Linked DNA regions of Homo sapiens. The protein of the gene in region 2 interacts with the protein of the main gene of each other region in a pairwise test. Each region holds a gene or a part of one and is shown on either strand. Other genes may lie near its edges.

The links.
Region 1: the proteins of SS18L1 (region 2) and AATF interact in a two-hybrid assay, tested with the Homo sapiens proteins (one large-scale study listed by BioGRID and IntAct).

Annotation. Positions count from the first base shown.
Region 1 is NC_000017.11:36,986,954-36,990,453, forward strand, and holds part of AATF (protein AATF), read left to right. Parts: intron 1-1,565; coding exon 1,566-1,767; intron 1,768-2,293; coding exon 2,294-2,458; intron 2,459-3,500. UniProt on the Homo sapiens protein: Part of the small subunit (SSU) processome, first precursor of the small eukaryotic ribosomal subunit.
Region 2 is NC_000020.11:62,160,769-62,164,268, forward strand, and holds part of SS18L1 (calcium-responsive transactivator), read left to right. Parts: exon of another isoform or gene 1-667; coding exon 668-812; intron 813-1,983; coding exon 1,984-2,163; intron 2,164-2,689; coding exon 2,690-2,854; intron 2,855-3,376; coding exon 3,377-3,478; intron 3,479-3,500. UniProt on the Homo sapiens protein: Transcriptional activator which is required for calcium-dependent dendritic growth and branching in cortical neurons. Recruits CREB-binding protein (CREBBP) to nuclear bodies.

The sequences.
Region 1 (3,500 bases), on a different chromosome or scaffold from region 2:
GCCTTCTCTTTAGATCTATTGGAATTAGAAGATAAAAGCACTTTGTTTTTTAGAGATGGGGTCTTACACTGTCATCCAGGCTGGAGTGCAGTGATGTGATCGCAGCTCACTGCAGCCTCAAACTCCTGGGCTTAAGCGGTCCTCCTGCTTCAGCCTCCCAAATAGCTGGGACTGCAGGCACTTGCCACCATGCCTGGCTATTTTTTTTTTTTTTTTTTGTAGAGACAGGGTCTTGCTGTGTTTCCCTATCTGGTCTCAAACTCCTGGGCTCGAGCCATCCTTCCACCTCAGCCTCCCAAAGTGCTGGAATTATAAGCATGGGCCACTTCACCTGGCCAAAAGCACATTTTTAAAATATTAATGCTTAATTAATGTTTATGAAACATTCTGTGCCCATACCATATATTGGAATCACTGGTCACAGCCATCTCCTTTGAATAAAAGCTGTTATTATGAAAGATGGAAAAATTTCAGAAAACAGCAAAATAATTATTTTTTCCCCCTGAAATTATTACATTTGATGAAGATTTTTCCCCCTTTTGTTTACACCTGCTGTATATACCTGCTTGCTTTTTTTCCCTCGAGCTTATCTTTTGTTTCACTTTTTATCTACTGAACTAGTTGGGAGGACAAAAAGGAAACTCACATTTATTGAGCACCTATTATATGTTGAGGTCAGTAATCCAGTGAGTGCAACTGGCAGATAGTTGGAGGTTGTATTACATTGCCATGGCAGTTGCATAGATGGCACTGCAGGTTAGTTAGTGCTAATTGTTGCCTACCGCTTTGAGTTTTCTTCACATTCAGCTTCTCTTGTATTTGGTTCAACTAATATTATTCATCTTTCCTTAACAGTTGGTTACAGAGAGACACATTTCCCTTATTGATTTGAGGATTAAGGTCGTAGAAATATGGTTATGTGTTTAATTTTTAAATACTGTCCTATAATACTGCAGGCCTGGTTCATACACATTTCTAATAATTCTTTTAAAACCTCATTTATTTTTATGGTTTACTTACCTTTTAAAAAATATTTTGAAACTAGTTCTTTTTATATTTGTTTTAAAAGTTACATGAGGCTGGGTGTGGTGGCTCATGCCCTGTAATCCCAGCACTTTGGGAGGCCGAGGCAGGTGGATCACTGGAGGCCAGGAGTTTGAAACCAGCTTGGCCAACATAGTGAAACACCATCTTTACTAAAAATATGAAAAAAATTAGTCGGGCATGGTTGCACACACCTGTAATCCCAGCTACCCATGAGGCTGAGGCATGAGAATTGCTTGAACCCAGAAGTGGAGGTTGCAGTGAGCCAAGATCGCGCCACTGCACTCCAGCCTGGGCAACAGAGCAAGACTGTCTCAAAAAAAAAAGTTACACGAGTTTTTGATTGATCTCATGAATATTCTTCTCAAAGAGCAAAAGCCATCCTTATATCTTTGGTGTTATTTTGAATGGAGACAGAACAGGTAAGGCCTAAATATTCTCAGTCCTTTATGTGAGCCTAGTTTTTAAAATCTAAGTAATGTTTGTTTACACTGGACATAATATTCTTACTGCTTTTCTAGTGAGGAGATTTCTAGTGAAGATGATGAGCTGGTAGAAGAGAAGAAGCAGCAACGAAGAAGGGTCCCTGCAAAGAGGAAGCTGGAGATGGAGGACTATCCCAGCTTCATGGCAAAGCGCTTTGCCGACTTTACAGTCTACAGGAACCGCACACTTCAGAAATGGCACGATAAGACCAAACTGGCTTCTGGAAAACTGGGGAAGGCAAGTGTGTGTATGCGCGCATGTATGTGTAAGATAGGTTGTGGCAACTTGAAGAAGTTTTAAGAAATTGGAACTACAGCTCATTTATATGGATGTTGTCACGATGTAATGGTAATCATTCATTTCTATAGCAAAATCTACTGAACTTCTGGCACTGGGGTTTATACGATTCAGACTTGGGATTTTAACTTTATTAGAAAGAATGTTTTATTCTTAAAATTGAGGCCTTGTAAGTGTTCAAGTGCTGAAAATCCAAATACTTTAAAGGAGTGGATTTCAAAGCAATAATTATTAAAGTATCAGAAGCTAATCTCCGTGTGTAGAAAAATGATATGACCTGCTTAAGACTAACTTTTTTTTTTTAAGAACAATTATAGCCACTCACAAACTCAGTCCTTTACAGAAAGTCCCTCCTGAAAAGATGATTTTCTATCTCTCTGCTGACACAGAAAGATAGAGAAACCAATGTAGCTTGCCTTCAGCACTGATTTTCTGCATTATCTGACACTGCTTAATGTTGTTGCAGGGTTTTGGTGCCTTTGAACGCTCAATCTTGACTCAGATCGACCATATTCTGATGGACAAAGAGAGATTACTTCGAAGGACACAGACCAAGCGCTCTGTCTATCGAGTTCTTGGCAAACCTGAGCCAGCAGCTCAGCCTGTCCCAGAGAGTTTGCCAGGGGAACCGGTAAGAACTCTGTAATGCAGAGTGATTATGGGGAATAGTTTCTATGAGGCTTATTAGCTGAAAAACTTGTAGCTATTACCTGTTTATATAAGAGGTTAGTGAGAGAAAGGAAAGCAACACTACTTTACTGGATTACTGAGAGAAACTTGAGTGTATGTGAGAGGAGAGAGTTTTTAAAAATGGGGCTTCTATTAACTCCTGTGTGTCATCTTCTCTTAATTTTGAGTTTGATGCAGGAGTCTGGTAGTAGAAGCATTCATAATCCAATTTTCAAAATTCAGTTTTAAAGCTACTTCTGTAGAAATGTCAGTATTGAAACAAGTGTGTACTTTAGGCTCAACGTTTGCCATTTAGGTACTTTAGAAAGGGTGCAGAAGTGGAATAGTCAAATTCTTTTGTTTAAAGGAAACATTTAAAATTTTTTAATTATGGAAGAAATATATACTTAATCCTTTTTTAGTTTATAGCAACTTAAAATGAAAAGCAAAATTCTCTACTCTGAAAATTTCACTCCTGAGGTGAAATTTTTTTATTTTTTTTGTCAATTGCCTGTTAACGTAACTCCTGAGGTGAAATTTTCAGTATTTAATAGTTGTAACAAGTTTACAGTTAATAATTAATAGTTGTAACAAGTTTTTGGGTCTTTTCTATTTGTGTAACTATATATGTGTGCAAATAACAAATATATATGTATAAATATGGTTGCCTTTTTTACTAAATGAGAGACATTTATGTAGTATAAATATGTAAAATATTACAACTGTATTTAAAGTCTTGCAACTTTTAAAATCTAATAAGTCCTAGATACTCTTTCCATTTCATTACCTAGAGAGCTACCTCATTTTTCCTAATGACCTCAAAGTATTCCATTGTATGGATATGCACTATCATTTATGCAAACAATGGATATTATGTTGTCTCCAGTTTCAGAAACACTGCTACAGGAAAGATTCCTGTACATGTATTATGTGTTCGTATAAATATATGGGTAGATTTCTTGAAGTGGAAGTGTTAAAGAAAATACACCAAATTCTGATAGATG
Region 2 (3,500 bases):
CTCCATTGACCTGTCAAATTGCACTTCTTCACCCTGCAGACACCCACAGGTCCTGGTGGAAATTTCCTTTTCTTGGCCAGGTGTAGACAGCATGTGTGTGCAGACCTCCAGAGCTGCTGGTTGACCTTGATCTGGGAGAGTGCTGAGGGCCACTTCACACTCACTCCCTTCTGTGCGGTGTGATCCGAGGCGGGTGTGGGGTGGGGGTAGTCGGGGAAGGGGCACATGCAGCAGGAGCACGGGAAACAGGAGAGGGATCCCACCTCTGCCGAAGCTCTTGGCACGGAGGGGTCGTGGTTGGGGAGCACAGAGGCGCTGGTCACCTGCGCCCGAGGGGGACGGGGTGCGTTCAGCCTGGTGGGCCGGGAAAGGGGTTCCCTGCTGTCCCAGGAGGAGGTCCAGCTTTTCACACCCAGGCACGTGTGGATGAACTTGATACTCAGTAGGGTTGTGAACGCTCACCCAGATGCTCACTCTGCCATCTCCATCTGGGCCTGGTGCTCTGCGGTCACCTGGCTGTGACGATGGCTGCTGATTACGAACATTGACCAGGTGGCCATGATGTGTGGCGGCAAATCTCGGGTGCCCTCTCATCCCTGGCCTGGCTTGTGGAGGTCGCTCTCCGTAAATTAACCGTTTTTCCCTGAAAACTTCCTGTTGCCTGCAGCCGCCCACGCAGAACATGAACCTGGGCCCTGGAGCCCTGACTCAGAGCGGCTCCAGCCAGGGCCTGCACTCTCAGGGCAGCCTGAGTGACGCCATCAGCACGGGCCTGCCACCCTCCTCCCTCCTGCAGGGCCAGATTGGCAACGGTGAGTGCGGCGGGGGAGGAGGACGTTCCTGGCTACGAGGCCACCAAGGCAGCCCTTGGGCAGCCGGCTGCCATGGTGGGGCACCCCACCCCTCACAGGGCTGGGCATGGGACCCACTCCTCCTGGGGTAGCCACAGGTCGGCTGCCATCGCCCAGGCTCAGGGCCGCAGCGAGCGTGCCGTGCGGCTGGGCTGAGCCCCTGCTCCAGTTGTCCACTCTCTCTGACACTGTCACGTTCCATCAAATTCAAATGCAAGTTGCGGGGTTCCAGGTGGATTGTGTAATAGGAATGGAATGCTCCTGTCTTTGGATTGAGAAGCATGGATAACGTTTGGAGACCATTAACAGTAATATAACAGGCCGGGTGTGGTGGCTCAGATCTCTAATCCCAACCCTTTGTGAGGCCTAAACCAGCAGACTACTTGAGGCCAGGAGTTTGAGACCAGCCTGGGCAATATGGCAAAGCCCCATCTTTACAAAAAATAAAAATATTAGCCGGGTGTGATGGTGCACACTTGTAGTCCAAACTGTTAAATACTCGGGAGACTGAGGAGAGAGGGTCACTTGAGCTTGGGAGGGTGAGGCTGAAGTGAGCCTTGTTCATGCCACTGCCCTGCAGCCTGGGTGACAGAGCCAGACCCTGTCTCAGAAAATAATAACAAAATAACAACAAATAAACGATTCATCCTGTGCTTTGCTAGCATGTACGCTGCTTTGTTTTCTTTTCTTTTTTTTTTGAGACAGAGTCTCGCTCTAGTCGGCCAGGCTGGAGTGCAATGGGCATGATCTTGGCCCACTGCAACCTCCGCCTCCCGGGTTAAAGCAGTTCTCCGGCCTCAGCCTCCCAAGTAGCTGGGATTATAGGCACGTGCCACCACACCTGGCTAATTTTTTTGTATTTTTAGTAGAGACGGGGTTTCACCATGTTGTCCAGGCTGGTTTCGAACTCTTGACTTCAGGTGATCCACCCACCTCGGCCTCCCAAAGTGCTGGGATTACAGGCATGAGCCACTGCTCCCGGCCACTTATTTATTAGTCACTTAATCATTAATAGTGCTGTTGATAGCAACTCTTCCCAAAGTCACTTGAAGGGAAATTGGGGTGTCTTCACCTTCAGAAGTGGTGACCTGGCTCCCCAGTGCCTGACACCACTCCCTGCTCCCCATGCCAGGGCCGAGCCACGTGTCCATGCAGCAGACGGCGCCTAACACGCTGCCCACCACCTCCATGAGCATCTCTGGGCCCGGCTACAGCCACGCGGGACCCGCCTCGCAGGGCGTCCCCATGCAGGGGCAAGGCACCATCGGCAACTACGTGTCTCGGACCAACATCAACATGCAGTCCAACCCAGGTACCTACTCTGCCTCTGCAACCCCGGGGGGCCTGGGCCTGCCTCCAAGACCCTTGACACATGCACGTTGGACATGTGGTCCCGGGGAAGCTGCCCTCCTGCTGGGTGCTGGAGGGGAGGGGCCCGTGAATCGGGGCTGGCCGCTGCCTCTGAGAGCTTCCGGAGGGATGGGCGCCAGTGGGTGCACGATCAACTCCTCCTGTCCCCCAGCTTTGCGAGGGGCTGGGGTGTTTCCCATGGAGTCTCAGGGAATGCCCCAGGGAGTGGGGGCCACTGGCCCTGGGTCTGGACAGACAGCACTGGGCTCTCAGAGGTGGGGTAGAGTCGGTGCAAGCAGCGGGTCTGAGCTTGCAGGGCGTCAGTGCAGGCCACGTAGGGGAGGCGTGCCTTGCGGTGGAGGACGCTGTCCTCGTGGGGAGCACAGGAAAATAACGAGGAACCCGCCCGGGCGCAGGAGGTAGTTGGGTGTGGGAGGGAGGGCGGGAGGCTTCCCGGGGTGATGTGGGGCCTCTGTCCTGTCGTTCAGTCTCCATGATGCAGCAGCAGGCGGCCACGTCGCACTACAGCTCGGCGCAGGGCGGCAGCCAGCACTACCAGGGCCAGTCGTCCATCGCCATGATGGGGCAGGGCAGCCAGGGGAGCAGCATGATGGGGCAGCGGCCCATGGCGCCCTACCGGCCCTCCCAGCAAGGTAACGCCCGGCCGGGCCAGGTCGCGGGCACAGCTGACCGCCGCGGGTCGTGAAGTGCCAGGCTGTGTGTGCTTCTCTTCGGGGAGCCTGGGGGAGTGAGGCGGGGAGCCTGGGGGAGTGAGGCTTGGCGCCTTGGTGTTAACATTGAGTGTGGACCCTGGGGGTGAGGGCCAGGGTGTGGCCCGTGGAGGGTCTGCTGTCCCCGAGGAGTCAGTGTTGGGGGCAGGGGCGGCAGTTGTCATTAAGAGTGTCACAGGCCGGGCTCATGCCTGTAGTCCGAGCACTTTGGGAGGCCGAGGTGGGCGGATCACCTGAGGCCAGGTGCTCAAGACCAGCCTGGCCAACATGGTGAAACTCTGTACTAAAAATACAAAACATAAGTTGGATACGATGACAGCGTGGGGTGTTCTCCTCGGGTGGGTGAGGCCATTCAGCAAGGCCTTGGCTTCCCCAGTGAGCGAGCAGGTCCTCTGAGGGAGGAGGGCGCGGCCCGCACTGGCGCTGAATGTGGTTCCCCCGCAGGCTCTTCCCAGCAGTACCTGGGCCAGGAGGAGTACTATGGCGAGCAGTACAGCCACAGCCAGGGCGCCGCGGAGCCCATGGGCCAGCAGTACTACCCCGACGGTGAGCACTGGCGGCGGCCTGA